2 separate regions of the Homo sapiens genome follow, and region 2 is linked to region 1. The links come from fine-mapping of genetic effects on gene expression. A gene starts in region 1. The other region holds a variant in brackets. All regions are shown on one strand. Distances are from middle to middle. Region 1 holds the start of TRAP1 (TNF receptor associated protein 1). Region 2 has its middle 4.5 kb from the start of PRSS21.

Region 1 (5,370 bases):
TGGCTAACAGGGTGAAACCCCGTCTCTACTAAAAATACAAAAAATTAGCCAGGCATGGTGGTGGGCGCCTAAAGTCCCAGCTACTCGGGAGGCTGAGGCAGGAGAATGGCCTGAACCCGGGAGGCGGAGCTTGCAGTGAGCCAAGATCGCGCCACTGCACTCCAGCCTGGGTGACAGAGCAAGACTCCATCTCAAAAAAAAAGAAAAAGAAAAAGAGATAAAGAAACAGAATTAAAATGTCCCTGGGCTGAAAACTGACATATTTTCCAAATGGAAGGGACAGTGCATGATACAAAGCATGAATCACAAACACCTGTGGACGCGAGACCACAAACGACAAAGAGAAAAAATCTTAACCTCCAAGGGGGAAAAAACCCGAGTCAGCTACAAAAGAAACGAGAACCAAATTAACAGAACAGTTGGCCAGGCACGGTGACACACGCCTGCAATCCCAGCATTTTGGAGGGCAAGGCAGGCAGATCACTTGAGGTCAGGCACTGGAGACCAGCCTGGCCAACATAGTGAAACCCCACCTCATAAAGACAAAAAAATAAATAAATAATTGATCAGACACTGGTGCTAGAAGAGAGCAACAGCATCACTTTCTGAGGGAAAATTATTATTATTTTTGTTGTTGAGATGAAGTCTCACTCTGTCGCCCAGGCTGGAGTGCAGTGGTGCAATCTCAGCTCACTGCAATCTCTGCCTCCTGGGTTCAAGCGATTCTCCTGCCTCAGCCTCCCAAGAAGCTGGGATTACAGGCGCGCGCCACCACACCCAGCTAATTTTTGTATTTTTAGTAGAGACAGGGTTTCACCATGTTGGCCAGGCTGGTCTTGAACTCCTGATCTGCCCACCTCAGGCTCCCAAAGTGCTAGGATTACAGGCGTGAGCCACCGCGCCCGGCCACAAGGTATCTTTTATAGACCACTGGTTTTGAAAAGACATAAGATTCAGCGTTGAAGAAAATACCTTTGGAATAGGCAGTCTTGATGCCTGCTAAAGGGGATATAAATTGATAAGGCCTTTTTGGACAATTTGGCAGTATCTGCTAACATTTCAAAAATGCATAGGCTCTGAAATATCAATTCTAAAATTCTAATTATGTAAGGCTAAAGAAATACCGCACGTGAACAAATATTTAAGTACTCACCCATTCTATGCAGCATTGTAATAAAAAGTAAAACCTGAAATAACCTTTATTGCGTCCACTAATAGGACAATGTTTAAACAAATGACACGTCCATCATACAGAATACTGTGTGGTCACTGGAAGGCACATGGACCTGTATACACTGACATGAAAAGATGTGGAAAGAATGCTGGGAGCGTTAAAATTTTCTGAAGTACAACGTAGCACAATGCATACATGGTTTAGGCTTTTTAGAATAAAAAATACTTATACGCAGACATTTATATTTACACGTATAACACTGTGTACAGCCCCGAAGCAATGCCGAAACTTTCACTGTTGTTACCTCCGAGTGGGGACTGGGAAAGCAGAGGTTAGGGTCGTTCTCTCTGTTTTACAAACATTTATTGGCGCATCCATCAATTCCAGGCCCCGAGGACACAGCTGCGTCAACGACATCGAGTCCACCTGCTCTGGGGACCCGGATGACTGCTATAGGTTTTGTTCACTGTGGCGTCCCCAGAACCTGCACGGCGCCGGGCACTGAGCGGGCGCTCACATGTGCGTCCAATGAACGAATTAACAAATGAACCCTCAGTGCGCTACTGGGAGGCGGGGAGGGGTAAAGCACGATCCATGGAACTAGCACGATCACCCCGAGTGAGTCCATTCCCCGCAACATGCACCCGCAAAGACTCCGCGCTCCGCAGCGGCTCCACCTGCACGTGCGCTACCTGACTGGACCGAAGCTCCAGGAGGGACGACCCCGCAGCCGCTCCGCCCGACCCCGCGACCCCCCAAGACCCAGCCTCCTTCAGGGCTCCCATGGGCGGGTGGCGAGGGGAGTCCAGCCGAGGAAAAGGCAGCCAAGCTGGAGCTGGCGAGGAGCGGAGCGAAAGTAAACGCGTCTGCCGCGCTTGGCCTCGCCGGACCTCCCACGCCTGTGAAGCAGGTGCCGGCGCCTCGCTCCCCGGAGCACAGGGACGTCCCTGCCGTCTCCGTGGCCCGGCCCGCCCGCTGCCCGTCCAGCCAGGACGCCCTCACCTCCCGGCACGGCCGCCAGCGCCGGCGCCCGCAGCAAAGGCCGCAGGCGGCGGCCCCACAGCAGCAGCGCCCGCAGCTCGCGCGCCATGTCGTACTCCCAGAGCGCCGCGCGCAGCCACGCGGGACCGTACACGATGGGAAGGGGCGGGACGGGGCTGCGCGGGGCGGGGCTTCCTCGGGCGCGGGGCGGTGACGTCACGGCGGGCGCCGGGCTGTCCGGGCAGCTGCCTGCTCGGGCGCGTGGCGGGGTACTACCCGTCTCGTGGACGGTCGGGCCTGGGGGTGGGACCTCCGTGACCTTGGATCGCGTTGTCAAGGGCGACGGGCCTTGCGCGCGGAGGTGGGGGAGGTGGCCCCGCCGCCCCCGGCCCACGCTGGCCGGCTGCGCCTAGCTGTGCGCATTCCTGGAATGGGGCGGATGTCAGTATCCACGCGAGGGTGTGGAGGCGACGCTGGGGAAGAAGCAGTTCCCGTGTCTGCGACCTTTGTGAATCCCGGCCATCCGTCTAGGCCGCTGCAAGTCTCTTGCAAACCAAGACTGGACAAAAAGCTAAAGCGAATGAGGAAGGGGATTCCAGGCTTGACTGGCTACTACTCCAAAACCTGAACCCAGTGACCAATACCACCAGGAAAACTGCGGTTATTCGTTTATTCCACTTCTCTTGTCCTTGTCGAGAAGAGTCAAACTCTAAAGTATTTAGAAGGTTATTCTGAGCCAAATATGAGTGTGCATGGAGGGAGGCACAGTCTCAAAAGGTCCTGAGAACTTGGCCCAAGGTGCTTGGGTTACAGCTTGCTTGGTTTTATACATTTTAGAGAGACATAAGACATCAGTCAATGCATGTAAGACATAGGTTGGTTCCGTGTGGAAAGGCAGGACAACTCAAAGGGTGAAATACTTAGAGGTCATAGGTGGATTCAGATACTTTCTGATTGGCAATTGGTTAAAAGAGTTGAGTTCTGGTTGGGCGCGGTGGCTCACGCCTGTAATCCTAGCACTTTGGGAGGCTGAGGTGGGCGGACTGCCTGCGGTCAGGAGTCCGAGACCAGCCTGGCCAACATGGTGAAAACCCATCATCTCTACTAAGATACAAAAAATTAGCTGGGCAAGGTGGCACGTGCCTGTAGTCCCAGCTCCTGGGGAGGCTGAGGCGGAAGAATAGCGTGAACCCGGGAGGCTGCGGTTGCAGTGAGCCGAGATCGTGCCACTTGCACTGCAGCCTGGGCGACAGAGCTGTGACTCCGTCTCAAAAAAAAAAAAAAAAGAAAACAAAAAAAAGAAAAAAAAGAGTTGAGTTATACAGACCTGGAATCAATAAAAAGAGTGTCTGGGTGAAGATAAGGGGTTGTGGGCACGAGCACGGTGACTCACACCTGTAATCCCAACACTTTGGGATGCCGAGGTGGGCGAATTGCTTGAGGTCAGGAGTTGGAGAGCAGCGTGGGCAACATGGTGAGACCCTGTCTGTACCAAACATACCTGTACCGGATGTGGTGGCGGAGGCCTGTAATCCCAGCTACAAGGGAGGCTGAGGTGGGTGGATTGCTTAAGCCCAGGAGGGAGAGGTTGCAGTGAGCCAAGTTCGTGCCATTGAACTCCAGCTTGGGCAAGAGAGCCACACCCTGTCTCAAAACAAACAAACAAACAAACAAACAAAAAACAGGTTGTGAAGACCAAGGTTCTTATTATGTAGAGGAAGTCTCATAGATGACCACCCTTACAGGTAATAGATGGCAAATGTTTTCGCAAATATTGTTTATTCAGACCGTTAAAAATTCCTAGACCCTCAGGATCAGGAAAAGACCTGCAAAGGTGGCCTGGCATGGTGGCTTACGCATGTAATTCCAGCACTTTAGGAGGCCAAGGTGGTCTTATCACTTGAGGTCAGGAGGTTGAGACCAGCCTGGTCGGCATGGCAAAACCCCATCTCTACTAAAAATACAAAAATTAGGCCAAGAGCAGTGGCTCACGCCTGTAATCCTAGCACTTTGGGAGGCTGAGGCGGGCAGATCACCTGAGGTCGGGAGTTCGAGACCAGCGTGACTGACAGGGAGAAACTCCGTCTCTACTAAAAATACAAAAAATCAGTCAGGCGTGGTGGCGCATGCCTGTAATCCCAGCTACGCAGGAGGTTAAGGCAGGAGAATCGCTGGAACCCAGGAGGTGAAGGTTGCAGTGAGCTGATACCGCACCATTGCACTCCAGCCTGGGCAACAAGAGTGAAAGTCTGTCTCAAAAACAAAAAAAATTACCTGGGTGTGGTGGTGTGCACCTGTGTACAGCTGAGGCTACTCGGGAGGCTGAAGCAGGGGAATCGCTTGAACCCAGGAGGCAGAGATTGCAGTGAGCCAAGATCGCACCACTGCACTCCCACTCCAGCCTGGGCAACAGAACAAGATTCCGTCTCAAAAAAAAAAAAAAGTCCTTTGTAATGTTAACGCTGGTCAGTTGTGCCTCATTTCCAAGGGGTGGAGGGTGTAATGAGGCAGGACCCACCCCATCCTTCCAATTATGGCCTGAACTAGTTTTTTAGGTTTCTTTGAAATCCCCTTGGTGGAGAGGAATGATCCATTCCATGGGTTGGGGGACTTATAATGTGTTTTTGCCGGCTGGGCACGGTGGCTCACGCCTGTAATCCCAGTACTTTGGGAGGCCGAGGCAGGCGGATCACCTGATGTTGGGAGTTCAAGACCAGCCTGACCAACATGGAGAAACCCTGTCTCCACTAAAAATACAAAATTAGCCGGGCATGGCGGCACATGCCTATAATCCCAGCTACTCGGGAGGCTGAGGCAGGAGAATCGCTTGAACCCGGGAGGCAGAGGTTGCAGTGAGCTGAGATCGTGCCACTGCACTCCAGCCTGGGCAACAGAGTGAGACTCTATCTCAAAAAACAACAGCAAAAAAAGAATTTGTTTTTGCTTTACACCTTGCTGGAGGTTAGAGACTAGTTGGAGATTCAGACCATACACCCTGGTCTAACATTTGGTCCAGACCCAGCTGCAGCCTCATAATGCCGATTTCCCGGCACCTCCTCAGTCCCGGAGTGGGGCCCAGGCGGCTCCACTGAGGTTCCCAGGTAATTCGGAGGCACACTGAAGATTCACTGCCACACTCTAATAACTGTACAAAAATAGCGACTCCAGCTCGTGGCACGTGCTGCAGAGAAGCACAGGAGCCAGGAGAGTGACCT
Region 2 (5,370 bases), 910 kb before region 1:
CACTACGCCTGGCTAATTTTTTGTATTTAGTAGAGATGGGGTTTCACCATGTTGGTCAGGCTGGTCTTGAACTCCCGACCTCAGGTGATCCACCCCCACCCCTGGCCTCCCAAAGTACAGCCGTAAGCCACCATGCCCGGCCTCATTTAGTTTTCTTAAGATCATTATTTTGAATTTATTTCTGACAGTTCACTGATTTCCTTTTCCACTGGGCTCTGTTACTAGACAATTATGTTCCTTTGATGCCAGATTTTCTTGCTGCTTCATGTTTCTTGTGTCCTTGCACCGATGTCTGTACACCTGGTGGAACAATCGCCTCTTCCAAAGTTTCTAGAGTGGCTTTCATAGAGATAGACTTTTACCTGCAGTTGGGTCTTAGTGTGCTGGTTGGAAAGGGTGTGGTGGCTGTGTTTCCAGATGGGTGCAGTGATATGGTCTCGGTGCAGCTCTTCAGCTGTGTTGAGCATCAGCAATAACTGTGGGTGCCTTGAGGCCCAGGCTGTACAGATTTGTGGCAGTGGTTGTTAATGTCCTTGATGTCAAGGGCTTTTGGGATCCTCCTATTCTTATTTTCCCCACAATGGGGACATGCAGCCAAAGGGGACCTTTTAGTGTCAAGCTTGATATGGCTCACAAGACAATGCAGTGGCACTGGCTTTCGTTTGCAGGTGCTTGGAGTAGCTGTGGGGCTGGGGTCCTAGGCTCAGAGCCTGGCGTACAAATTGAGGCAAGGCCTGGGTCACTGGGTGCAGGCTTACTCTCTGTGGCAGGGTTGAATGTGCGTTGCCCACAAAGCCAGGATCTGTACTTCTGACGCACTCTCTAGCAGGTCAGGCCCAGGGGGCTGGGTTGTAGCTGTGATTCTACTGTGGGGGGCAGAGCAATGACCCAACTCTGGGGAAGATGTGGTGCTCTTCATGTTTAAACCTGGGGATCAGGGTATGGCTGCCACTCCGGGGCCTGAGCCAATAGGGCTCAGTATAACTCAGGGTTCAGGGGCTCAGCGTAACTCAGGATTCAGGGGCTCAGCGTAACTCAGGATTCAGGGGCTCAGTGTAACTCAGGGTTCAGGGGCTCAGCGTAACTCAGGATTCAGGAGCTCAGCATAACTCACGGTTCAGGGGCTCAGCGTAACTCAGGGTTCAGGAGCTCAGCGTAACTCAGGGTTCAGGGGCTCAGCGTAACTCACGGTTCAGGGGCTCAGCATAACTCACGGTTCAGGGGCTCAGCGTAACTCAGGATTCAGGAGCTCAGCATAACTCACGGTTCAGGGGCTCAGCATAACTCACGGTTCAGGGGCTCAGCGTAACTCAGGATTCAGGAGCTCAGCATAACTCACGGTTCAGGGGCTCAGCGTAACTCACGGTTCAGGGGCTCAGCGTAACTCAGGGTTCAGGGGCTCAGCGTAACTCAGGATTCAGGAGCTCAGCGTAACTCAGGGTTCAGGGGCTCAAAGTAACTCACGGTTCAGGGGCTCAGCGTAACTCACGGTTCAGGGGCTCAGCGTAACTCAGGGTTCAAGGGCTGAGGCTCCATGCAGTAGTGACTCTGAACCCCGAGAAGGTAGGGCTTGGCAGTATCCCCGACTTCATGAAGCCAGATACACTGGCAGAGTGGCAGAGCACAGCTGTCATTTCAGTCCTGTTGGGGAGGGAGGTAGCAGGAAACAGCACATTCGAGGGGAAGGCAGGGAGCAGCGCAGGGAGACTATCTCTATCTCTAGGAGGCTAATCCAGGGAGGCAAGGTGCTGGAGCTGGCCCAGAGGGCGGTGTCTCAGCTGGAGATGGCCCACAGCAGGGTGTCTCAGCTTAGCCACTGCTGAGCCAATGTTTCCCTGGGATGCGAGCTACTACATCAGGTCAACCCCTGGATTCACAGCTGCTCAGCTCAGCCAGGGCAATGATCTCTTGGGGGAAGTGGGCTGCTTTAGCTTAGGCCTGGGGAATGAGACTATTCTGGGTAGCCCTGGCACCATTTCCTGGAATGCAGCACGCTTCTCCAACTTCAGCTCTGAGCAGCCAAGGTGCTGTTTTCCCGGGAGGCAGGTTGTGGCTTCAGCTCTGGCCTGAGCGGAGAAGGGGGAAGGTTAGGTGGAGCACCTCCACCACTGCTTGGCCCCAGGAGCAAGGGTGTGACCGCTGCTCACGGCTCAGTTTAGGGGTGTGAAGCCACCAGGCTGAGGTTGTTCAGTGGTGGATTAGTCTCAGGGATAAAGGGCAACTGTGGCTACTCAATCCCAGGGCAAGATATGCTCTGGCTGTAGTTCCAATTCACCGCTGGCGCAGTGCGGTAGCCACGTGACCACAGGAAATGGGCTCACTGTGGGCTCCTCTGCAGGGAGCTCAGCTGTGCGGCCTCAGTTAGCCCCCTTGCCTGGGCTTAGTGCCTGTGAGGACAGGGGACGCTAGTGGTGAGGGCTATAGGTGTCCAAGGTGCTGGTGGGGCTCCTGGGATCCCCTGCTTACCTCCTTGCCTCATTCCCAGCTGATCCTGGTTGAGGACTGGGGTGCAGGCCCAGTGTTTCCTTCTGTTCTTCATGCGGCCATCCTGAGTTTCTCTGCTCACCAGGTTTCTGTTACTCCTCTAAAGCACTCTGGTGCTCTTCCTCAGTTATTTTCATTAAAAGTTAATTGTTGGCCAGGCGCGGTGGCTCACACCTGTAATCCCAGCACTTTGGGAGGCCAAGGCGGGCAGATCATGAGGTCAAGAGATCGAGACCATCCTGGC[C/T]AACCTGGTGAAACTGTCTCTACTAAAAATACAAAAAAAAAAAAAAAAAAAAAAAAGGGGGCATGGTGGTAGGTGCCTGTAATCCCAGCTACTTGGGAGGCTGAGGCAGGAGAATTGCTTGAACCCGGGAGGCGGAGGTTGCAGTGAGTTGAGATCACGCCATTGCACTCCAGCCTGGGCAAAAAGAGCAAAACTCTGTCTCAAAAACAAAAACAAAAACAAAAACAAATATTGTTTATTCATTGTTCTGGCTGTCTTAGTGAGGGGAAGGAGGACAAGAGAACTAGGGGGGCCATGGATGGGTGGCCCGCACCTGTAATTCCAGCACTTTGAGAGACCAGGGCAGAAGGATCGCTGGAGGCCAGGAGTTCAAGACCAGCCTGGATAACATTTTGCTCTACAAAAAATTTAAAATAAAAATGGGCCGGGCGCGGTGGCTCATGCCTGTAATCCCAGCACTTTGGGAGGCCGAGGTGGGCGGATCACAAGGTCAGGAGTTCGAGACCAGCCTGGCCAACATAGTGAAACCCCGTCTCTACTAAAAATACAAAAATTAGCTGGACGTGGTGGCACACGCCTATAGTCCTAGCTACTCGGGAGGCTGAGGCAGGAGAATCACTTGAACTCGGGAGGCAGAGGCTGCAGCGAGCCGAGATCGCCCCACTGCACATTAGCCCGGGCGACAGTGAGACTTAGTCTCAAAAAAAAAAAAAATAAAATAAAATAAAAGTAAAAATAAAAACGTAGCTGGGTGTGGTGGCCCGCACCTGTGGTCCCAGCTACTTGGGAGGATGAGGTAAGAGGATTACATTGAGCCTGGGATGCTGAGGCTGCAGAGAGCCAAGATCTCACCACTGCCCTCCAGCCTGGCCAATAGAGGGAGACCCTGTCTCAAAAAATAAAATAAAATAAAATAAAGAAAAAAAGAAAAAGGAAGGAAATTGTGACACATACAGCGATATGGATGAGCCATGAAGACACTGTGCTCAGTGAAATAAGCCAGTCACAAAAAACGAACACCGTGTGATTTCACACATATGAAGTACTTAGAGCAGCCAAAAGCGTAGGGACAGAAAGCAAAACAGAAGTTGCCAGAGACTGACAGGGCGGGAGCAGAGCCTCACTTTAGTTTTGGCACCTGGCTCTGGTTGTGACGCCTGCACCGTCTCCCTGGAGGGGCTGGTCAGAGCTGGGCTCCCACTGACTGATGTGCCAAGATGAGGCCCCCACTGTACCTCTGCTCCCACCCTTCTGCACCACCCACCCAGCTCCCATCCCTCTGCACCACCCACCCAGCTCCCACCCCTCTGCACCACCCGTCCAGCATTCCTCTGACTTTCAGGGATAGCAGGGGCCAGGCACAGGGAGTGGGCAGCGGAGTCCCTCTCAGGAGGAGCCTCCTTCAGGGAGGTGGAGGTGGAAGAGGCCAAGCCCTTGGCCAGCACAGCTCTCAGAGGCAGGAGCTTGGAGGTGCCACAAAGCGGGCTGTGTTCTCGCGCTAGCCCAGCCTAAGGGCACCTTTCCATGTTTTGTTTTGTTTTGTTTTTTGTTTTTTTTTTTTTTTTAAACACGGACTCTCGCCCTCTCACCCAGGCTGGAGTGCAATGGTGCGATCTCGGCTCACCGCAACCTCTGCCTCCCAGGTTCAAATGATTCTCCTGCCTCAGCCTCCAGAGTAGCTGAGATTACAGGTGCCCACCACCATGCCCAGCTATTTTTTGTACTTTTAGTAGAGACAGGATTTCACCATGTTGGCCAGGCTGGTCTCGAACTCCTGAACTTGTGATCCATCCGCCTCGGCTCCCCAAAGTGCTGGGATTACAGGCTTGAGCCATGGCACCCGACCTGTCTTTCCATGTTTTGCTGGCAGTTCAGGGGCCTTCTTTCTAACTCCAGGCTGACAGGGTTTGGCGCCCAGAAGGAGAGTCACTTGGGCCAGGACTCCAGAAGCACCAGCTGAGGTTGAGGGGACTTGGTGGAAGGGATAGTTAGCAGCCTGGCCAGAGGGGCGCCAGGACTCACCCAAATGCACACTGGAGGGGATGTTCAGATGGCACGAGAACGGGGATCACACATGGTCGTTCACACACGTGCACTTGAAGATGCATGCACACACATACACCCAGACACACACACCCGCCCAGCCTCTCCTGCACGCAGGGGGCATGCACACACGAGGACGCTCCTCACCTGCATGCCTGACCTGGGGAAGAAGCCCACCTGGTGGGAGGCACCCTCCTCCCACCCTCCATCTGCCATGGCCCAAGTGCTGGCCCCGAGCCCGTGCCCAGGGAGACTCAACACAGGCCCTTTGTCCCTTGGGATCAGGGCTCCCAAGAGAGGGATTTACTGAGCATTTATTTCCTGCCCCGGGCACGCCCCAGTCCTCATTCTGCCAGGAGAAGGGAACAATGAGGCCTTCTCCTGCCCGCAGAGGTGGCTCCGGGCCGGCTGGCCCTTATGTGTCAGGAGTCGGGTTAGGACCACAAGTCCCTGTCCTCCCTGCCCTCCAGGTGTGGGGCTTGGGAAGACCCCTCTGTGACTCTGCAGCCTGAGGCACAGCAGACAAGAGAGTCTCCATCTGCAGCCCATGCAGCAGCCAGGGCCTCCCTGCAGCCCCCGGGCCAGGCTTGGCCTCTGCG

What was found.
Region 2: its variant is fine-mapped to the expression of TRAP1 in ovary (GTEx, PIP above 0.99).

The regions. Positions count from the first base shown.
Region 1 is chr16:3,715,245-3,720,614 of GRCh38, forward strand. It overlaps TRAP1 (TNF receptor associated protein 1), which reads right to left and starts at 2,280. Exons shown (of 18, transcript NM_016292.3): 1 at 2,177-2,280. The coding sequence starts at 2,264. RefSeq lists silencers at 1,881-2,000, 2,021-2,630.
Region 2 is chr16:2,810,027-2,815,396 of GRCh38, forward strand. No RefSeq gene overlaps it. Among named protein-coding and RNA genes, the nearest start is that of PRSS21, 4.5 kb to the right of the region's middle. RefSeq lists enhancers at 1,310-2,040, 2,041-2,770, 4,913-5,370. The variant C/T (reference allele first, on the strand shown) is at 2,729.